Homo sapiens: one gene and its partner. The protein of the gene in region 1 interacts with the protein of each later gene in a pairwise test. Each region holds a gene or a part of one and is shown on either strand. Other genes may lie near its edges.

Evidence for each region.
Region 2: the proteins of SDHB (region 1) and PIK3R5 interact in a two-hybrid assay, tested with the Homo sapiens proteins (one study listed by BioGRID and IntAct).

What each region holds. Positions count from the first base shown.
Region 1 is NC_000001.11:17,022,967-17,034,570, reverse strand, and holds part of SDHB (succinate dehydrogenase [ubiquinone] iron-sulfur subunit, mitochondrial isoform 1 precursor), read left to right. Parts: intron 1-1,425; coding exon 1,426-1,511; intron 1,512-5,834; coding exon 5,835-5,971; intron 5,972-6,705; coding exon 6,706-6,822; intron 6,823-10,496; coding exon 10,497-10,598; intron 10,599-11,604. UniProt on the Homo sapiens protein: Iron-sulfur protein (IP) subunit of the succinate dehydrogenase complex (mitochondrial respiratory chain complex II), responsible for transferring electrons from succinate to ubiquinone (coenzyme Q).
Region 2 is NC_000017.11:8,875,917-8,887,520, reverse strand, and holds the end of PIK3R5 (phosphoinositide 3-kinase regulatory subunit 5), read left to right. Parts: intron 1-299; coding exon 300-425; intron 426-915; coding exon 916-1,044; intron 1,045-1,198; coding exon 1,199-1,292; exon of another isoform or gene 1,293-1,303; intron 1,304-2,337; exon of another isoform or gene 2,338-2,737; coding exon 2,738-2,814; exon of another isoform or gene 2,815-2,955; intron 2,956-5,639; coding exon 5,640-5,733; intron 5,734-5,808; coding exon 5,809-5,891; intron 5,892-6,503; coding exon 6,504-6,616; intron 6,617-6,734; coding exon 6,735-6,882; 3' UTR 6,883-8,605; downstream 8,606-11,604. UniProt on the Homo sapiens protein: Regulatory subunit of the PI3K gamma complex. Required for recruitment of the catalytic subunit to the plasma membrane via interaction with beta-gamma G protein dimers. Required for G protein-mediated activation of PIK3CG.

The DNA of each region.
Region 1 (11,604 bases):
TATCTCTACTAAAAATACAAAAATTTGCCGGGTGTGGTGGCATGCACCTGTAATCCCAGCTACTCGGGAGGCTGAGGCAGGAGAATCGCTTGAACCCGGAAGGTAGAGGTTGCAGTGAGCCGAGATCGCACCATTGCCTCACACCCATAATCCCAACACTTTGAGAATCCAAGGCAGGAGGATCACTTGAGTCCAGGAGTTAGAGACCAGCCTGGGCAACATGGCGAAATCCCACCTCTACAAAAAAATACAAAAATTAAGCTGGATGTGGTGGCACATACCTGTAGTCCCAGCTACTGGGGGGCTGAGGCAGGAGGATCTCTTGAGGCTGGGATGCGGAGGTTACAGATCTGAGATCGTGCCACTGCACTCCAGCCTGGGTAACAGAGCAAGACCCCGTCTCAAGAAAAAAAAGAAAAAAAATGAAATACAGATAGTACTAAAGGAAATGACGTATTTTTAAGTATATTTTTAATCTCATGCATAGAAAATTAGTGAGTGGAATGGGGGCAGGGTGGCAACCAGAAAATAGATTTGTGGAGCACTTACTGTATGCCAGGTACTATGAAAAATTACATATTTTTATGTAATTTTCACAGTAACCCTGTGGTGTAAATATTAACTCTACAGATAAACTGAGGTTCAGAGAGTAATTTCCGTAGAATCACAGTTTCTGCATGATGATTATTATAGTTAAACTATGATTTATATGTCAGATGCTGCTGTAAAGATCTCGTGTGTATTAACTCACCTCCAGCAATCCTGTGGGATGCAGGTGCTGCTCTCTGCACTCAGTGGATTAAATGCCTAGGCAGAAATTAAATCATTTGCCTGCAAGCTGGTAAGTGGCTCAGCCATGGTGCAGACCAGTCTCTTGGCTGCCAGGCCGGCACTCCAGGTCCCACGCCCAGGGATGCTCCGCTTAGTACCATGTCACTGCCCTTGTATGTTCTAGGAGGCTCACAGTGATTTGACTGGGGGACTGTGAGTGATTGGGTGTCTTTTATTCTCTGTACTATGTCTTCTCTTATGGTTATGTATTATTAATTACTATTTAAAACTATTGTCTACATCCTAAAAATCAAACTAAAATTTGAAATAAATTATTTGGAAAAACTTTGCAGGGAGCTTCAGAAGTAAAAAACAAAAACTCGGCCACTGTATGGAAGTTGTGTCATACTTGTCTACTACTACTTTAGCTTTCCATTTCCTAGAAATGTGTTTGCACTGTGATCATCAAAATAGAACTGTGCAGTACTTAAAATGTAAGAATCTGCAAAAACAAAACTACAGAACAAATTCCGAAGGTGACCTGAGAAGACCAAATGGATAAGCTAATACATCCAGGTGTCTCCGATTATATTATGATAAAGTGTAGGGAGGTTGAACGTTACATAAATACCACTGGATATTTTTCTTTGTTAGATGTGGCCCCATGGTATTGGATGCTTTAATCAAGATTAAGAATGAAGTTGACTCTACTTTGACCTTCCGAAGATCATGCAGAGAAGGTGAGCATTTCATTCCTGTTGGGCTCCAGATACTTGTGGTCTTCCAAAGAGGCTTGGGCTGGCCAAAGCTGATAGAGACATCTGGAAAACAGCTGCAGCTCTCTGCTGGGTGAACTTGCTGTGCAACCTAATTCCTTTTCTTGGGTAAATGCATCCAAAATTCTAACCATGGTGCAAGTTCTGGTTTCTGAGTTTACTTTCCTTCAGGAGCATTCTATCCTGTGGTTACTGCATCTGGCGGTCCCTGTGAGCTGCTCCACGCTTCAAGGCCTAGCTAGGACCTGCTGGCTGGCACCTTCCATGCTGCTGAGCTCTTTTATTAAGGGAGCAGTGGAGAGTTTCTGTCTGGCACTTATGCTTGTCCAGCAGGGGAGATGTGTGAGTCTCCCTCAGCTCCCAGCATGACATGTCCTTGGTAGCTGTGTTCTGGATTGGCTGGTACAGTGTCTCCCTCAGCATGTGGTTACTTGTGCTGCTGGTGCCACATGAGCCCATTTGAGGCAGTGTGCAGACTAACATTTTCTACATGAATAGCAATGTATTCATTTTCTGTATTAGAAAAATATAATTACTGCCGGGTGCGGTGGCTCACACCTGTAATCCCAGCACTTTGGGAGGCCGAGGCGGGTGGATCAGCTGGCGTCAGGAGTTCGAGATCAACCTGGCCAACATGGTGAAACCTTGTCTCTACTAAAAATACAAAAATTAGCCGGGCGTGATAGCGGACGCCTGTAATCCTGGCTACTCGGGAGGCTGAGGCAGGAACCCGGGAGGTGGAGTTTGCAGTGAGCCAAGATCACGCCACTGCACTCCAGCCTGGGCAATAGAGCGAGACAGTCTCAAAAAAAAAAAAAAGAAAAATATAATTACTAATGATGGTATAATAGGGATATAAGTGGTTTTTTAATGTGAATTTAAGCAAAACAAGTTAAAGAAAACCCAAGAGATACTTTAAAGAAAGTTGATTCAGGTGGTTCTCAGGTATAGCAAAAATTGCACAGGGTGCAGTGAAGACCGACTGGCCTGATGTCCGTGGAGCCAGACTGTGTGCCCGGCTCTGTTCTGTGCACTGGACATGAGGTAGATGACTGTGCTTATTATCTACCTTCAATTTAAAGGTGAGGCCCAGAGAGGGTAATGGACTTCCACAAGGACACATAGAGAGTGACTTGAGAGCCGGGAGTCAGCCAAAGCTGTCAGACTCCAGACTCCAGATCTGCTCTCTCAGGCACTGACTTGGCTTGGAACACCTGGGATAAAACAAAAGCAGAGAGTAGCTTGATTCTGTGAGGACACTGAGCTTTTTTCTAAGAAAACCTTAAAAAAAAAGGAAAAGCCAGTATTGATACCGGCCCATGGCTTTTTATCTGTTCAGCTGTACATTTCAAGCATTTCAAGTCTTTTAAGACATCTGTTTTGATTCAGCTAATCTTATTTAGCGTTGCAAATGCTGATGGATATTATGATAGTTCGGCTGAGTCCTGCTGTTCAGGGAACATTCTGCGGCAGTTAAACAGCAGCCTTCCCCATTAAGTCCTGGCAACACAGGAAAGGTAGATGCTTTTCAGTAACCTTTCCCTGTAGGACTCTTTCAGAACCAAGAACATAAGGTGTGACCCATCTGGACTAAAAAAAATAAAGCAGAATTGTATCAATTGCTACTCCTTTTTATTCCCATCTTGTTTTTCTTATTTTTTTTTTAATTCCCATCTTGTAAGAGAATTCCCAGGGAGCCTTTTTGAGAGAAAGTTCATTGGATTTATTTTTTTAATTTTTATGCCATTTCTTGTAAAAGCAAACTGCTCTAGTTGGATGCCAGGTATACATAAATGTATTGATAATATCCAGTCTCTTGGGGAACTCTAGGAGTATTTGCTTAAGACACATCTTTGGGTTCCCTTACACTCTTTCTAAGATTTACAGGAGAAGGAGAGTCTTACTGTCTTTTCTAGTCTTATGAAAGTGATAACCGACTGGGCGCAGTGGCTCACGCCTGTGATCCCAGTACTTTGGGAGGTCTAGGTGGTAGGCTAGCTTGAGGCTAGGAGTTTAAGACCAGCCTGGGAAACATAGACTCCCTTTCCATTAAAAAAAAAAAAAAAAAAGGTGAGGCCAGGCATTCAGAGGCCGAGGCGGGCAGATCACAAGGTCAGAGTTCGAGACCAGCCTGACCAACGTGGTAAAACCCCGTCTCTACTAAAAATACAAAAATTAGCCAGGTGTGGTGGCGGGCGTCTATAATCCCAGCTACTCAGGAGGCTGAGGCAGGAGAATCACTTGAACCCGGGAGGCAGAGGTTGCAGTAAGCCGAGATCGTGCCACTGCACTCCAGCCTGGGCGACAGAGCAAGACTCCATCTAAAAAAAAAAAAAGATGATAACCAGTGCAACTTTCTCAAGCAATCAGGTTTCTCTGACCTAATGATCTTCAAAAAACAGCTTCAGAGGACTGGCACTAGAGGTTTAGAGTACATAATCATTTTTAAATTCCAAAACACCCAGGAAATTTCCATATACAGGAAGTAGGTCCAGGCTAAGAAAATTCTCATGTCGGGGTCCTGGGTCAGCACGTTTTTTGTTTAGTTTGCTTTGCTTTGCCTCAGTTTCATATTAGTTCATTCTTCTCCTCTTTGGAAAGTCCATGCTGAGTCAGCTTTTGTGGATTTCATAGCCCCAGGGTACTATGCTGCGTATTTTATGAAGACAATAGAAGAAGCCTTACCTCTGTCAAGTGTAGTGGCTCAGGCCTGTAATCCCAACACAGTGGGAGGCAAAGGCAGAAGGATTACTTGAGGCCGTGAGTTAGAGACCAGCCTGGGCAATATAGTGAGACACCTGCTCTACAAAAAACAATTATTTTTTTCTTTTTTTTGAGATGGAATCTTGCTCTGTCACCCAGGCTGGAGTGCAGTGGCGCGATCTCTGCTCACTGCAACCTTCTCCTCCTCAGTTCAAATGATTCTCCCGCCTCACCCTCCTGAGTAGCTGGGATTACAGGCACCCACCACGACTTATATTTTTAGTAGAGACAGGGGGTTACCATGTTGGCCAAACTGGTCTCGAACTCCTGACCTCAAGTGATCTGCCCACCTCAGCCTCCCAAAGTGCTGGGATTCCAGGTGTGAGCCACTTCACCCAACCTACAAAGAATTTTTTTGAATTCGCCGCACATGGCGGCATGTGCCTGTAGTCCCAACTACTCAGGAGGCTGTGGTGGGAGGATCGCTTGAGCCCAGAAGTTTGAGGCTAAAGTGAGCTACAGTGAGCTATGACTCCACCACTGTACTTCAGCCTGGGTGACACAGCAAGACTCAGCCAAGAAAAAAAAAGAAGAAGAGCTATCTCTTAATAATCTGTATCCAGGTCACTTCAACCTTAAGATGACCAAGACAATGTTGATTTACTTTACTTTTGGGTATTGTGTCTGTTAGATTTGTGTTCAAATAACAGTGGCTTTAAAAAATCTAGGTTTCCAGGCGTGAGCCACCACACCCACCCCTACTCAGGAGGCTGAGGCAGGAGAATCACTTGAACTGGGGAGGCGGAGGTTGCAGTGAGCCAAGATCGCGGCATTGCACTCCAGCCTGGGCAACAAGAGCAAAACTCCTTCTCAAAGAAAAAAAAAAAAAATAGGCTTGACGGGTGTGTGGTGGCCCAGACCTGTAATCCCAGTGCTTCGGGAGGCCAAGGCAGGCAGATTACTTGAGCCCAGCAGTTCAAGCCCAGCCTGGGCAACATAACAAAACCCTGTCTCTGCAAGTCTCGTCTCTACAAAAAATACCAGAAAATTAGCTGGGTGTGGTGGGCTACTTCTGTAGTCCCAGCTACTTAGGAGGCTGAGGTGGGAGGATCACTTGAGCTCAGGCATTGAGGACTGCAGTGAGCTGTGATTGCACCACTGCACTCCAGCCTGGGTGACAGAGTGAGACCCTTTCTTTAAAAAAAAAAAAAAAAAAAAAAAAAAAAACAGGCTGATTTTTCTTCAAAACACGTGACACATGGAGCTAGAACTGCTGTGGAAACTCCATGGTGCCAGCAGCGCCCAGGCCTCTGGCCTCCTCCAGTGCCATACTTGGCATGTGGCTTCTAACCTCAAGGTTGCCACATGGTCATAGAGTAGTTTTTGGAACTCAAGCCATTAGAACCACATTCGAGGCAGGAAGAAGGAAGGAAGGGAGAAAAGCCAACAGGCACCTCTGTCAGAGGAATGTTGCATGTCAGTGCTGCCCCTGATGGCACAGCAAGGAGGATCCAGAAGAAAGTATTTGGGGCAGGACTGATTCCGGATATGGGTGAGGATGTGTTAAATGTGTGTCTCTTTCAGGCATCTGTGGCTCTTGTGCAATGAACATCAATGGAGGCAACACTCTAGCTTGCACCCGAAGGATTGACACCAACCTCAATAAGGTCTCAAAAATCTACCCTCTTCCACACATGTATGTGATAAAGGATCTTGTTCCCGTGAGTTTCTGCATCTCTCTGGTTTTGTTTTTATTTGCATGGGGGGCAGTGCTATGTGTGTTACGCTATTAGTTTTTCAGGGCAGGATTTGTTTGAGTATTTAAGGCTCCTCTTCTAGTCAGATAGTAAATAGATGGGACTGTTTCCTATATTATGGCAGGAGGAGGACCACAGTGTCACTGAGAGATTAGGAAAATCTCCAGATCTGAGACAGTGTGGCCAGAGTTTAATTAAAGAATTTGAATGGCAGAAGATAAACGCCTAGAAAATCCTCCAGCAGCTCATTTGGTGAGGTTTGTTTGAGAATAATGGGGCACAGAATTTTAGAATTGGAACATTCCCAGAAATGAATAATTTGGCCATAACTACAAAGAAATCATGTGGAAAATGCCAGTTGGGAAAGCAACAGCTGTTTATGAGTCCCACTTTAATTTCTACCTCCCTATATTTGAACACCTTTGCTGACGTGGTGTTTTCAAGGGCAGAAAGGACTGTGGGATTGGCAGGTTTCCCAAGTAGGTGAGGGAGAGGTTTCCTAACCATGCTTAACATTGTGACCATTTTTCCTTTTGTAATCTTTGCATATATTCATGACAAAGGAAAAGAGTCTGGCTTCTGCCTGGCATAGAGTGGACGAGTAGTCAGTGTCCAAGAAATGGGGTAAATAAAGCTGAGGTGATGATGGAATCTGATCCTTTTCTTCTTCTTCTTCTTCTTCTTCCTCTTAACCACAGGATTTGAGCAACTTCTATGCACAGTACAAATCCATTGAGCCTTATTTGAAGAAGAAGGATGAATCTCAGGAAGGCAAGCAGCAGTATCTGCAGTCCATAGAAGAGCGTGAGAAACTGGTCATTAGTCCCTATTTATTGTTTCAATCTGAAGAATTTATTGCAAAGATGATTGCCAGGAGTGTGGCTTGGCAGGGAACATAAGCTGATGCAAGCCATTTAGTGTATTCTGGAGAGGAACTGGCACAAGGGTGGGGCACTCATCCTCTTAGGGCCGGGTGAGTAGTGTGAACCCGTGAATGGCCCAGAGTGGACCAAGGAGCTAGAGCCCTGTGCCCCGCCTGCAGGGGCGGGTGGTTGCTGTGTGGCTACTCCATCTTTTTCAAAAGAAACCAGTATGTAAATTGCCTGGGCTTTAAAAAGTGACCACTAAGTCAGAACTGTTCCCTCACTGGGGGCAAAATGAAACACATATGCTGGCCAGTTGTAACTACCACCGTCCTGCTTTACAAATGGGAGTGAAATGTTAATGGCAAAACAGAGTCATCGATATTCTTTCCTGACACCATACTTCTGGTGATCTGTGGGGTGGGATTATTCCTGGCCTGCTCACTCTCTGGGAGTTGCCATTCCTGTGTACAAGCTGTAAAATCTTAAAGCGGAGGCATCATTATCAAGTTTTCAGTCTTTCTTCTTCTACACTACTTCTACTCCTCTGCGAAGAAGTCTTCTCTGATTTGCATACTCCCTGCATACTTGTGGACGTGAGGTAGGAAGGGGACCAAATGGAGACAGAGCCCCACCTGCAGGTCTGCACAGGGCCAAGGGCAATGGCTGTGTCTTCTTCCTTTCTGGATCCCTAGGCCCTGGCGCATGTTATTTTATCCATAAATATTAGTTATGTAAATACTGTAAAAATATATATAAATTTTTTAAAAGGCCAGATGCAGTGGTGCATTCTGATAGTCCCAGCTACTCAGGAGGCTGAGGTAGGAGGATCACCTGAGCCCAGGAGTTTGAGAGTCTGAGAGTTTGAGGCCAGCCCGGGCAACATAGCCCAGGTTTTGTCTCTAAAACATATACATATATGTGAATATATGAAAAGTATCAGTTGTATGAATGAATAAATTAATTCTACCTTTTGAGACTTGGTAAATATTTAGCATCCTCTCCTGTTGCCCATAAAACGTTAAGAAAGGGGAGTCCGGCCAGGTGCAGTGGCTCATCTGTAATCCCAGCACTTAGGGAGGCCGAGGTGGGCGGATCACTTGAGGTCAGTTGTTCGAGACCAGCCTGGCCAACGTGATAAAACCCCATCTTTACTGAAAATACAAAAATTAGCTGAGTGTGGTGGCTCACACCTATAATCCCAGCTACTCAGGAGGCCAAGGCAGGAGAATCTCTTGAACCCGGGAGGTGGAGGTTTCAGTGAGCCAAGGTTGTGCCACTGTACTTCAGCCTGGGCAACAGAGCAAGACTCCGTCTCAAAGAAAAAAAGAAAAGAGAAAAAGGGGAGTCCTAGTAAGTGTGCCCAGTCTGTCACCATCAAGATAGTGAGGGTCAGCACAGTGGCCTGCAAGTCAGAGTAAGCCTGGGATGAGACTTCAGAGCTGCTCTTCTCAGACTGCAGCTCTGCTCCTCAGTTTCTACCTCCCAGAGTCTTGTGCATCCCAGAGTCCAGGCTGAACCGGGCCCTCTGGCCCAGCGAGTCCTTTGCATTCCTAGGCAAGGCTGGTGCGTAGCTAGTGAACATCTCCCTGATGTGGTATTATTAGGGATTGAAGAGTTCCCCTGAGCATGTTTGGTTTTCTAGATACAAGTTGAGTATTCCTTATCCTAAATGCTTGGGTTTCAGTGTTTGGGGTTTCATATGTTTTCAGATTTTGGAATATTTGCCTTACACTTACTAGTTGAGCACCCCAAATCCGAAATCTGAAATCCATGCTCCAGTGAACATTTCCTTTGAGCAGCATATTGGTGCTCAAAAAGTTTCAGATTTTGGAACATTTTGGATTTCAGATTTTCAGATTTGGGATGCCCAACCTGTAATAGAAATTTACTCATTTACTCATTTACATACCAAACATTTAACATTTTTTGGCTTCCTTAAATTAGTATGCTGAACTTAATAAATAATTGGAAAATGTGGAGAAATTTATGTATGTATTTATTTTTAATTGGGCAGCCCCCAAACCAAAATAGGTTCAGAGAGGCTCCATCATTTTTTAAATAAGCTATAATTTTCAGCCTGGGGAACATAGGGCGACCCTGTCTCTACAAAAACTTTAAAACTTAGCCAGGCATGGTGGTATGCACCTATAGTCCCAGCTACTCAGGAGGCTGAGATGGGAGGATTGCTTGAGCACAAGAGTTCCAGGCTGCAGTGAACTGTGATTGTGCCACTGCACTCCAGCCAGGGGCACACAGCAAGACCCTGTCTCAAAAAAAAAAAAAAAAAGAATTTATAATTCCACCACCAAAACATAATCTCTGTTAATATTTATAGTTTCCTTTGTTTTTTGTTTATTACATTATATTTTTATGTAGCTGGGATCAAAATGTAAATATGCTTTTATATCCTGCTTTTTTCACTTATGTTATTGTGAGCATTTTCTTCATATTCTTAAAATTGTTCATAAGCATTAACTTACACTTTGCTTTCTACTGCTTCAGATGTATGCACCATGCGCCATAAAACCATTTCACTGTTGCTGGACAATGAAATTGTTTCCAATTTTTTACTGTTAGAAATAAGGCTAGATGAACATCTTTATCCTTCAAGTTCTGCCCAAAACATTCTAATTTCTTATTACAGATTTTTCTAGGAGTGGGTTAAAGAATATGACTATTCTTAAGGCTCTTAATCCTGTGACCTTATGCCTTCTAGACCAGTGGGGCCAGTTGACACTCCCACCAGCTGTCTGGACATAACATAGATTTGGTTGAAGACTCATGGTTCAATCACAACCATCAGTTCTGTCTCATCTGTTCTCAACTGTCACTTCAGGTGTCAGTGGGCCCCTTTCATTTTGCTGTTTTTAATCCATTTCTGTTGTTTCCAAACTCAGAAAGTCCGGTTTGTGTTTGGGACTTGTTGGGCAGATTGACCCAGTGTGGCAGGTGTGAAAGTGCAGGAAGCCAGAGCCAGCTGCCGGGGCCACATCCTGGTTCTGCTGCCTATAGTGGCACGTCCCTGGGCACATGGCCTAACTCACTCTCCTCGCCTTGGTTCCTTACCTGTAAGTGGAACTTGCTGGAGTCACCTCACAGGATTACTGTGATGATCAGTTAAGGAAAGCGTGTAAGGCGCAGGGCCTCCGTCAGGATTGGCAGTGGCAGTCACTGGGGATGATGTTGATGTTCCCAGTGAAAACCTGAGGGCCCTTCTGCTGAGCCCAGGGCAGAAGCAGCTACAGACTCTTGCTGCTTCAGCCCCTAGGCTTTTGAATCTCTCCCGTCTTGACCTCATTCCAGGAAGCTGGAATTTATGGGAGTTGTTTTTGTGTTCTTGTTTTCTATTTCTTTTTTAGACAAGTGAGAGGTTCTTGTTTATTAAAGGGAAAGTGCACTATACGTGGATTTAAGAACCCTGGGCAGATGTTTACATTTCACTTGCAAGATCTTTATTAATCTGCTAAATATCTGCAAATCACCCCTTGGATTTTGCTAAGAAAATTCACATGCAAGTAGGCACTTTGTTCATGCACTGACCCCAAAGGTAACATTTAATCAGCTGAAGACATAGCAGAGTCTCTCCCGTCACAAGCTCCTGCCTCTCTTTTCTCCCCATACAGGACGGGCTCTACGAGTGCATTCTCTGTGCCTGCTGTAGCACCAGCTGCCCCAGCTACTGGTGGAACGGAGACAAATATCTGGGGCCTGCAGTTCTTATGCAGGTGAGGTGCTCCTTAATTGCTTTAAGAGAAATTGAAACTCAAGCATCCAGAAGTCCAAGAGGACAATAGATTGCTGTAAGCCAGCCATTCTGAGGGGCCTGGTTTCCTTCATTGCCATCCAGTCCAAACAGGGTAATTGGTTGCATTGTATTCACTTGCTTTCGGTAAATCTGGGGCCTTGTCTGCAAATTGCCTTTGTTTCAGTGCAGTGAGGGTCACCCCAAAGGGGTGCAAACCATGCCTTGCAGATGTTTAAAATGTATTTCCGTTTGCCTGGTGGTCAGAGGCTCCCCCTCTCCCTCTCATAGGATTTGTAACATAAGACTTGTAGCGAGCAAGCAGGGGAGAAAGCAGTGTCTTTGAAGGGCAGCTGCCCAGCTATGAGATTGGAAGCTGTTTCCCAGCTAATGAAAGCCTGGATTTAGGGGTTGCTTAGAAAGAAAATAGTATTGATGTTCACTGCAAAGAAAGTCACTGTCTTTGTTCCCAGAAAGCTTGTGCTTTTTTAGATACGTGCTTTTCACAGACTCTAGGCAACTCAAAAACCAACTTCTCTTTCTCATTTTCCCACAAAAAGAGAAGTTACAGGTTTGTGTGACCACATGAGCAATATTGATTCCCAGCCATGTGAAGATTGGATAATGAAGTACACTCATACTTGTCACTTTTGCCAGCTGCTCCGAGTTGGGGATGTAGAGGTCCTCTAAGTAACACTGCTAGAGCAGGCCTATGGTCATGTGATTAACTCGTTTCAGCCTGCTGATCTCAGGCTGCTGAGAGCGCTGTGTAAGTTCAAAGAATCATTAAGTGGGACAAATACTATCTGTAGACAGGTCTGTTAAATCATTCCTTTACTCAGAGACAGCAAGTCCAGCATGGGTAGGTGCCATGAAGACAGATAAGAGTTATATGATACAGTCCCTGCCTTCACCAAATTATAAGCTGGGTAGGAAGCTATTGAGCAATGTGAAATAATTAGGAGATGATACCCAGTGTGTATAATTAA
Region 2 (11,604 bases), on another chromosome or scaffold:
GTATGTCCCCAGCCTGGGCCAATGGTCGGGGAAAGTAGAGTTCTGGCTACCTGAAGGAAGCCGATTGGAAGTCATGGAAAGCAAGCACCTGTGTTGACAGGGCACCTCCCCCTGCCTGGCCCTCACTCCCTGCACTTGGACATGACATTTTGCCATATGACAAAGACTGAAAGTTGTCATACTTCCCCAAGGGCAGGGAGAAGCTCAGCATGGGGCTGCAGGTGCCATCCAAGGCCCTGGAGCTAGGATGGGCAGGCCTCCTGGGGAGCTGGGATGATGACTCTTGTTCTTTGCCCTAGGAGCTGGGCACCACCCCATGGGAGGAGAGCACCAATGACATCTCCCACTACCTCGGCATGCTGGACCCCTGGTATGAGCGCAATGTACTGGGCCTCATGCACCTGCCCCCTGAAGTCCTGTGCCAGGTAAGTGGCCCCGTGGTTGCGGAACAGGGTCCACTGGCTGCAGTCACCCAGCCTCACTTAGAAGGCCCTGGATTTAGGGAATCAGGCTTGAGGCCCCCATGGAGGACCTGGGCCCTCTTGGAAAAGATCAGGGAGTGTGGGTGAGAAGCAGGACTGAGCCTGAACTCAGGACACTGAGTGTGAGAGCTGGGGTCACTGCAGTGATGGAGGAGGGCCCTCAGAAGGGTCCGGGGGACCTCAGATTTCAGCCCCCTTCCTCAACTCCCGCCTTTGTCTGGCTAAGCCAGAAGCCTCCCTGGAGGCCAGTGGGTCAGGTGAGGGGCATGGAGGCTGGGCACCGGCCCTCCCCTGCTTCCTGCTTCCACCTCACCAGCTCCCCCTGACTGGCTGCCTCTATGTCTCTCTTCTCTCTTCCTCCCTAATTCTTGCTCCTTCTTACCATCTATCCACCCACCCATCTGGCTTGGCTGCCCCTTCCCTCTGGCCACAGCAGTCCCTGAAGGCTGAAGCCCAGGCCCTGGAGGGCTCCCCAACCCAGCTGCCCATCCTGGCTGACATGCTACTCTACTACTGCCGCTTTGCCGCCAGACCGGTGCTGCTGCAAGTCTATCAGACCGAGGTAAGGCCTCCCTGCCCCGAACCGCCTCTTCCCCACCTGCCGGGCCTGCAAGGCCCCACCCCTGCCCCGGGAGAGCCAGCAGGTCTATGCTGGAGGAGCCAAATGGGCCCCTCCAGGAGGTTCACACTGATGTACATGCTCCTGCCCTCTCCAGCTGACCTTCATCACTGGGGAGAAGACGACAGAGATCTTCATCCACTCCTTGGAGCTGGGTCACTCCGCTGCCACACGTGCCATCAAGGCGTCAGGTGGGTACTGCCTGAGCAGAGACAGACGGTGAGGCGGGGCCTGGGACGCGAAACGTGGAGCTCTGTGGAGGTGGGGTTACCTGGGAGGTGGGGCCATGGGAAGGTGGGGTTGCACAGGAGGTAGGCCCCTGGGGAGACGGGGTTACCGGGAGGTGGGGCCATGGGGTGGCTGGGTGACCCGGTAGGCGGGGCCCTGGGGAGGCAGGGATACGGGAGGTGGGGCCACGGGAAGGTAGGGTTACCCAGGAGGCAGGGCCATGAGAGGGCGGGGTTACCTAGGAGGCAGGGCCATGGGGAGGCGGGGTTGTCCGGTAGGTGGGGCCTTGGGGAGGCAGGGTTACCGGGAGGCAGGGCCATGGGGAGGCGGAGTTACCCAGGAGGCGGGGCCCTGGGGAGGCGGGGTTACCCAGGAGGTGGGGCCATGGGAGGGCGGGGTTACCCAGGAGGCGGGGCCATGGGAGGGCGGGGTTACCCAGGAGGTGGGGCCATGGGAGGGCGGGGTTACCCAGGAGGTGGGGCCATGGGAGGGCGGGGTTACCTAGGAGGCAGGGCCATGGGGAGGCGGGGCCCTGGGGAGGCGGGGTTACCCAGGAGGTGGGGCCATGGGGGGGCGGGGTTACCTAGGAGGCAGGGCCATGGGGAGGCGGGGTTGTCCGGTAGGTGGGGCCTTGGGGAGGCAGGGTTACCGGGAGGCAGGGCCATGGGAAGATGGAGTTACCCAGGAGGCGGGGCCCTGGGGAGGCGGGGTTACCCAGGAGGTGGGGCCATGGGAGGGCGGGGTTACCCAGGAGGCGAGGCCATGGGGAGGCGGGGTTGCCTGGTAGGTGGGGCCCTGGGGAGGCAGGGGTACCGGGAGGCAGGGCCATGGGAAGGTGGAGTTACCCACGAGGCAGGGCCCTGGGGAGGCGGTGTTACCCAGGAGGCAAGGCCATGGGGAGGCGGGGTTGCCTGGAAGGCAGGGCCCTGGGGAGGCACGGTTACCGGGAGGCAGGACCATGGGAAGGGGGGTTACATGGGAGGTCGGGCCAGGTGGAGGCAGGCTTACCCAGCAGGTGGGCCCTGGGGAGGCAGGGTTACCCAGGAGGTGGGGCCCTGGAGAGGCAGGACCCTGGGAAGGTGTGATCACAGCGGAGATGGGGCCCTGGAGAGGCAGGACCCTGGGAAGGTGTGATCACAGCGGAGATGGGGCCCTGGAGAGGCAGGACCCTGGGAATGTGTGATCACAGCGGAGATGGGCCCTGGAGTGATGGGGTCACTGAGGAGGTGGAGATCCCCAGAACGTGGAGCCAGAGAGAGAGGCAGGGCCTTGGTGAGACAGATCCCTAGGGAGTCACGGTCCATGTGGTAGGGGATGGGGAGGTAAGGCCCAGGGAGGCAAGGCCACTGCGTTCGTGAGGAGCCGGGGAAGCCAGGGGTAGTGAAGGGTCTGTCTGTGTGTGGCACAGGTCCTGGCAGCAAGCGGCTGGGCATCGATGGCGACCGGGAGGCTGTTCCTCTAACACTACAGATTATTTACAGCAAGGTAAGACCCGTGCTGGGGCTCCTTCCCCTCCAGGATCTGCTGCTGATACTTCCTCCGCCAGAGCTTGGACCCAGAGCTGGACTCGTGTGTTCCTGGGCCCCAGTCTTTACGCTGGAAGGCTGCAGCAGGCTCCCCTGGATGCTGAGAGAAGCAGAGAAGGGAAGGAGTGGATATCTCTGTGCTTCTTGGCCTCCAAAGCCTCTCTCCCACCATGTTCTCTGCCCCCACCCGAATGCGCTCAGCAGCAGCCCAGGGGTAGGGGTCTGCTGGGCCTGGCTACAGGGCTGGGGCTGAAAGGGGGAAAGGGAAGCCTTCCAGAGGCACCTCAGGGAGAAGCCAGGGTCTCGGGGGGCCAGTGTGCCTGGCAGGCTGCATGCAAGATGGGATTGGCGTGAGAAAGGAGTGAGGAGAGCTGTGGGGAGGTGGAGGGCTGTCCATGACATGCCAGAAGACATGAGTTCTCTGAGCAGGTCGCATCCCAAGGTCCAGGCTGAGGGAAGCTTGGCCTCACAGGTGGGCTTCTTCCTTCGGCCATTCCAAAGATATCCTCTTAGCACCTGCCCATGCTGCCTCTGTGCTGGGCAGGGGAAAAGAGGGGTTGAGCAGGGAAGCCTAGGCCTCACTTTAGCTTGTCTAGAGGAGGGAGACAGACAAGAAACGAGGAAACAAAGAAATAGCCAAGATAATTCCAGAGAGCGGCAAGTGATGACAAAGCAATAAAACAGCAGATGGACGGTGGTGTTGGGGCTGCAGTGCGTTTGGCAGTGAAGGAGGTGGGCAGGAGGCACCGACACTCACTGTAGCCACATGCCAGGTGCTTGCTAGACGTCTTCCACAGCCCAGGCACTGTTCTAGGCCCTGGAGCCTTCCTAAGAGTGAACAAAGGACAGACGTGGTCCCAGGAGACCTGCTGGCCCCCTGGAGTGGGTGGTAGGCATTGGTTCGATGATGCACACGATGTAAAATTACAACTGTGACACATGGATGAGGAGAGGGACACGGGATGTTCCTAAGTGGCAAACCGAACCCAGTCAGGAGAGTTAGTAGTGAAGGCTTCCTTGAGAAGGCACCTGAGTTAATATTGGAGGGAAAACCAGGAATTAATTAGGCTGAGAAGAGAGGTGAGTGCTCTCACAGCAGCAGAAACTGCATGTGCAAAGGCCCTGTGGTGGGAGGCAGTGTGAACACCTTGAAGCACTCTGAAAGAAGACCCCCAGGCTGGAGCAGAGACAGCTGGTGGGAACATGATGCTGAGGTGAGGCTAAAGAAATGGGGGACCAGCATACCAAGAGCCTTAATTGCAATGAAAGGAGTTTTGTGGTTTTTTGTTTGTTTTTTTGAGACATAGTCTCGCCCTGTTTCTCAGGCTAGAGTGCAATGGCTCAATCTTGGCTCACTGCAACATCCGCCTCCCTGGTTCAAGCAATTCTCCTGCCTCAGCCTCCTGAGTAGCTGGGTAGCAGGTGCCCGCCACCACACCCGGCTAATTTTTTGTATCTTTAGTAGAGACGGGGTTTCACCACGTTGGCCAGGCTGGTCTCGAACTCCTGACCTCATGATCCACCTGCCTTGGCTTCCCAAAGTGCTGGGGTTACAGGCATGAGCCACCACGCCCGACCCAATGAAAGGAATTTTATCCTAGTCCTAAGAGCAGTGGATATCCATTAAGGGGGCTTATGTTTGTGGTGGGGCTGGGAATGCCTGTGACATGATTATATCTGAGGCTTGGAAGCTCCCTCTGGCAGCTCTGTGGAGGACAGATAGGAAGGGTCCACAAGTGATGCAGGAAGGCCAGTTAGGAGGCTGTTGCCATGGTCCAGAAGAGAAATTAGGGCAGCAGCCTGCACTAGGGTAGTGGTGGCAGAGCTGGAAAGGAATGGGAGACAGATGTGAGTGATGTAATCAGCAGGGCCCATGGATGGGTTAGGAAAGGAGAGGCCAGACTCCTGGAGTCACTCCTCTGTGACTGGCAGCACCATCTTCTCTGGGGGGACCACAGGAAGAGGCCGGGGTCCAGTTGGGGAAGAGCTTGAGTTTGGGTCGGGACATATTATTGAGGTTGAGAGGCCTTGAGAGGTATAAGGAGACAGTGAGAATAGACGGCTGGCTGAACGGGCCTGACTTTGTGGTGAATATGAAGATGGGTGGACAGCTGCTAATGGAAAAAGGTCACGGAGGAGACTCCTGAAGGGGGGAAGCAGGGAATACAAAGAGCAGAGGACCAAGGGGAGAACCTTGAGCCCTTCATGATGTAATGGCGGGCAGAGGGCAGCGATCCAGCAAAGCAGAGAGGCACCAGCCAGAGAGGCGCTAGAAAAACCAGGAAGGTGCCATCACGAAAGCCCAGGAGAGGTTTTCAAGGAGGGGAGAGCAGTGAACTGTAAGGTCAAGTAAGCTGAGGACCAAGAAGTGTTCTTCGGTTTAACAACATGGAGGTCCCTGATGACAGAGACATTCACACAAAGACTTGAAGAGGGGGTTCAGGTCTGGCTCTGCCAGAAACAGCATGTCTGTGGGCCCAACCCTTCTTCACTCTGGGCCCGGCAGGAGAGCTTCAGGACCACCCCTGCAGGTGCTCTCAGCTCTTGTACCTTTCAACCTGGTCACAGAGGCTGCTGACCCCTAGACCAAGCCAGTGACGTGAGCTCTTCCCTGGAGTCATCCAGGTCTATCCAGGGTGGTACAGGGGCCCTGGTGAATAAGAGAGGGCTTTCTGGGGATATGCTAACTAGAGGCAACCCCCTGTCACTGATGGGCCTTCAAAGAGAAGGCAGCAGGCACCGGGGCCTCTGGACTCAGAGGGTCTGGCTACACTGCATTTCCAGGGGGCCATCAGTGGACGAAGTCGCTGGAGCAACCTGGAGAAGGTCTGTACCTCCGTGAACCTCAACAAGGCCTGCCGGAAGCAGGAGGAGCTGGGTGAGTGGGGTGGTCAGTGTGGGGTGTGCAGTAGGGAGGTGCTCTGAGCCTGGCCTGAGTGTCCTTGCCCCTCAGATTCCAGCATGGAGGCCCTGACGCTAAACCTGACAGAAGTGGTGAAAAGGCAGAACTCCAAATCCAAGAAGGGCTTTAACCAGGTACGGGCTTCCCTCTCCTTCCAGCCATACCCTCAAGAGACTTACTGGAGCGTGCATGTGCGTATGTGTGTACGTGTGTGTGCACATGTATGTGTGTGCATGTGTGCACATACACACCCGTGTGTACATACTTGTGTGTGTGTGAGAGAGAGAGGAGAGGTGGGGGAGGAGAGGCAGGGTGAGGGGTATGATTTGGGGATGCACACAGGTGTGGAGTGTTGCGGGGTGTCGGGGAGGTAGGGGTGCCCTGTGAGAGGACGCGTGTATGTGGAAAAGTTGTGGGGTGGGTGCCAGGAGAGTCCTAAGACTCTGAGACCAAAGAAAGCAGGCTCTGGATCAGGGGACCTGGGGCTGCTCCGGTGAGGGCAGCAGGCAGGGCAATGTCTCCTCAGGGGGCACTTGCTTCTTCCAGATGCTGGAGAGGAGGCAGGGGCTGATGGAGGCCTCAGGCTCCCTCCTGTGACCTGGCCATTAACCCTGGAGCGCAGTCAGACAAACCCCTGCCCTCCCACACCCCTAGAAGTGGATGGGCAGTTCTGAGAAAAGGAACTGCCAGGGGCTGGCAGTGTTGGATGGCCAGGGATTTGGGGCTGACCTGGGCCTTCCTTCCAGATTAGCACATCGCAGATCAAAGTGGACAAGGTGCAGATCATCGGCTCCAACAGCTGCCCCTTTGCTGTGTGCCTGGACCAGGATGAGAGAAAGATCCTGCAGAGTGTAGTCAGGTAGGAAAGGGGGGTCCTAGGGAGGGGAGCAGTTTCTGCTCCCACCAACCCAGAGGCCTGGAAGGAGCTGGAAGGATGGGGGCCTGCTCTGATCCCTGGCCCCTGCCCTGCTGCACAGATGTGAGGTCTCACCGTGCTACAAGCCAGAGAAGAGCGACCTCTCCTCACCACCCCAGACGCCTCCTGACCTGCCGGCCCAGGCCGCACCTGATCTCTGCTCCCTTCTCTGCCTGCCCATCATGACTTTCAGTGGAGCTCTGCCCTAGTGTGGGCCCAGCGCCAGACTGGACAGAAGCCCTGGGGCAACCTCCTCGGCCACCCCTCCAGGACAGTCCCTCTCTGTGGAGAACTGAATGGCCCTGTGCAGAGCCATAGTCCCACTGTGGGTCCTGCAATGAGCAGGGGCTGGGAGTAGAGGGTTTCTGGGGCCTCAGGGTTCTGGGAAAGCAACAGCTATCAGAGAGAGAAGGGCCAGACCCCATAGCCTCTTAGATTCCTGGCAGTAGAAGGAGAAGGATGGGTAAATTGACCTCTGAAGTCCCTGACCATTAGCATGGTCTAGGATCCTTTCTAGAAGGAAGATCTGAGGCTCTGGTGCTCAGGGGGATGGCTTGGGCCTTTTCTCTCAACCTTGGCTGAGCCTACCCCTTACTTTGCCAAAGACTTGAGGACCCTGTATGTCTGGAGTTCAGTCCCCTCCTCTGTGGGGCTCAGGTGATTGAAATGTGGATGAAACATTTCTCTACTTCAAGACCACCTCTCCCTGCAAACACCACACACACATGGCATGCATGTACGCACATGCGCACACACACACGCACACACCTCAATAATTTCTCTCAAGTTTCCTGAGTCTCCAGAAAAACAGCACTAACGCTGGACCTGTCTACTCTCAGAACCCGGCACAGATTCTCTCTTGATCTCCTTTTGGAATCTGAGATTCTTAGAAGACAGGATAGGGTTAAATTTAGTAGCAGCTCAGTTCTAGCTAAATCACTAGAGGAAGTTAATTAACTTTAAGCCTTCATTTCTCCAGCACTAAAATGGAGTGGAGAGTTGGGGTGGAAATAAGACATCCTTAAAAGGTTAAATTGTCTGCAAAGCACCTAGCCCAGTGCCGAGCTCCCAGTAGGTGTTCAGTAAAGCTTAGTGCCTGACTTTCTGAACACTGATTCCTCCTGTTTGGAGTCACTGGGATACTCTCATTGCCGTTGGGATGTTCCTCACTCCTTCCCAGTTCGTGGCTGAGGCAGAACCCAGACTGAAGAGGGAAGAGACATTCCAGAGGAGGATTGCCTTCGTCAGGGTAAGGGGTGGGCTGCTCAGGGGCCCTACCCTTCACCCCCTTCTGTATCAGATTGGCCCTCCCACTCCCATCTCACTCTGCGTGTACAATCTTCCATATCCGCAAGTTCACTGGCACTCTTCTGGCACCTGGGCAAGATCCCAGAACAGAGGATGGAGTGACTGGCCTCACAGAGCTTAGTGCCCGACTCAGGGGAAATGGGACTGGTGCATGGGAAATGGTCAGCCTAGGATAGGACACGAGAGTCTGAAATTCAAAGCAACCAGCTTGAAGTGGTTTGAGAAGCTGGAAGCAAACATGGGCTAGAGAGATAGGGCAGAAGTCAAGACGAGGATCTGGACTGATGTGGAGAAAGTAGCCACGGAAGCATGAACTGTATCCTGCACAAAGTCCCTCTTCCCCGCCTCCTAATTCATTATGCCCAAAAGGCCTTACGTGAAATTCCAGCCCAGAGTACTCATGACTTGAGAGACGTGGACAGAGCCAGCTTCTACCTTGCCTGGCCGTCTCTCCCCTGTCTTAATGTCTGCTCTTGCTCTAAGCTCCAGAAGAGTGGCGGGCCATGTATCTTCAATATGTTTTTGCTGTATGGGCAGGTTGTCTTATTATGTGATCAACAGATGTCCAGGAACTAATGAGTGGAATTTAATATTATTGTCAAATAAAACTTGATTTGTCCTATATTTAATGACCAGTAGTTACTTTGCTGCATGACCCTGCTAGTTGGACAGTTTATATAAATCATTTTATTTATACCAGAAAGAAGCTTCATAGGGGATTGTTTTATTTCTCTTTTTGTAATTTTCCACCCTATAGAAAATATATTTGGGTGAAAATTTTCCCCAATACTGTTCTGCTTAAGCCTCATCATACTCACTGACCCACAGAACAAAAATTCCTACACCTAAGGACTCAGCATTTGGGGTTTCCTGTGCTACTTCACTTGAGAAATATATACCCATATATCCATCTGTTTCCTGTACCCCAAGCTCCAGGGAGGGGACGGGCCTGAGGCCGTTGCTGCGGATGGGTGGCACAGTGGATCCTGGACCTACCATGCAGCTGAGAGGAGGGGAAGAGAGCTCAATAATGGCCCTTTGGATCTGGGACTGCCTTTAGACTTGGGTGATAAGGAAAGAGAGAAGAAGAAGTGGAGGGATGGTAGAGGACACCTGTGGCTTGGGAGAGGGAGGTAAGTACCAGGTTGCCAGAACACTATTCAGGATGGAGGGAGAAAGAACTGTGAGCTGTTCCAGCTCTGCATCAGCTGGCTATTGCAAACAATGAAGCATACCTTCAATTCAGGGAACTAAGTCTCCGATCATTTGTTCTTGCTCATGCATCTGGAGGACATCTAGGGACCACCTGATCTAGGCTGGGCTCAGAGTGGCTTGGCTCCAAGCTGCAGGATGGGTGCAGATCTGCTTCGTTGGTCTTTCAGACACATTGGACCAGCATGAGAGGCAAGCAGAGACACGCGATGCCTCCTAGGAATGGAACCTGGAACAAGAACAATATTCCTTCTGCCAATAATTGGCTAACACTGATGAAGCACATCAACCCACAGACTTAATAAACCCAGCAAATTTTGCACAGGAATTTTGACACAGGAATCTCCACACAAGAAAAAAACAAAATCACATGAGAAGTGCACTTTACCTTTGATGTTCTTTCCATAACTCCAGTCTAATCAAGAGTAAAAAAGATCATATAAACCCAGACTATGGGACCAGATAACCTGACCAGTACTCTCTTACTGTCACAAAAAATAAGGAAAGACTGAGAAACAAAAAGAGATGGAGTAAACCTGAAAAATAAGCAGTAGACACTGGCTTGTATCCTGAAACATTAATCCAAAAACTGGTAAAATCCCAATACAATCTGGAGTTCAGTTTTTTCTTAAACACACACACACACATACACACACACACACACACCCCTTACTGTCAAACTTCTAAAGAAAAAAAGGTAATAAGAAAATACTAAAGACAGAGGAAAATAATACACTTTATCTTCAAAGTAGCAACAATTAAACTGAGAACTCTCTCTTTCAATAGAAACAATGGAAGCCAGAGATGATGAAATGATATCTTTAAAGTATGAGGGGAAAAAACAAACCTACTAACCTGGAATCACACACCCAGAATTGTCTGATAATACTTTTTTAAAAAAAACTTATAAACTGCAGCGGTCGGGCGCAGTGGCTCACACCTGTAATCCCAGCACTTTGGGAGGCCGAGGCAGGCAGATTACGAGTTCAGGAGATCGAGACCATCCTGGGTAACACGGTGAAACCCCGTTTCTACTAAAAATACAAAAAATTAGCCGGGTGCGGTGGCGGGCACCTGTAGTCCCAGCTACTCAGGAGGCTGAGGCAGGAGAATGGCCTGAACCCGGGAGGCGGAGCTTGCAGTGAGCCGAGATCGCACCACTGCACTCCAGCCTGGGTGACAGAGCGAGACTCCATCTCAAAAACAAAACAAAACAAAACAAAAAACTTATAAACTGCTCACAAGGGACACACTTTAAATATAACATCACAGAAAGGTTGAAAGCAAAAGGATGGAAAGAATCACACCATGCAAAACCAACCAGATCAAAAAAGCTGGTGTTAACACACTAATATCCAAAGATGCAAAACCGGACCAAAAAAGCTGGTGTCAATACACTAATATCCAAAGATTTAACAGCAGAAGCATTACAAAAAATAAAGAGGAACATTTCATAAAGATTAAGGAGTCCAACAAAAGGTATTACAGTTATAAAGCTATATACACCAAATAACAACTGAAAATTATATATAAATATAAATACATGTCACTATATAAATATAAACTGTATATAAATATAAATATAAAACAAAAATGGACAGAACTAGAAGTCTCCACAACCACAGTGGTCAACATATCTCTCCCAATAGCTGATAGAACACATAGACAAAAAATTTTAATAGAGATATACAAGATCTGGACAACACAATTAACAAATTTGATGTTACTGAAATTGATAGAACATTGTGGCCCATTCTCAGCTCACTGCAAACTCCGCCTCCCGGGTTCAAAGGATTCTCCTGCCTCAGCCTCCCAAGTAGCTGGGACTACAGGCGCATGCCACCACACCCAGCTAATTTTTTTTATTTTTTTAGTAGAGACAGGGTTTCACCATGTTGTCCAGGCTGGTCTCGAACTCCTGACCTCAGGTGATCCACCCACCTCGGCCTCCCAAAGTGCTGGGATTACATGCATGAGCCACCACGCCCAGACAGAAGATTCTTTAAACCATACTTCACAAAAATCACTGGCTGACCTAAGAATGGATCCCCTATTGGTCAGACACATACCCTGGATACTATCACCATGAGCTGTAGGCGAATCCATGGGCCAAGTGGTTATAGGCTAAAGGGGCTCTGAGCCAGAATGTCTCATCCAGTCCATGAGCTTTTGTAATCCGAGTCATTGAACACTGAGGAAAGGGGCCGAGGTAGGGGACTGAAACTAGAATCCCCATTGGGTCCTGCTGTTGGCAGATGAAGAGAAAGGAGGAGGCTGTCCTTTTCAGCACCCCATCCTCCTCCTCAAGGTGGCCCCTCCTCCGCATGGTACCTCACCAAGAGCTCAGGAGCTGGCCATAAACTTGCAGACTCTCACCTCCCACTACTCACAGCAGAATTACTTCTGCCCTA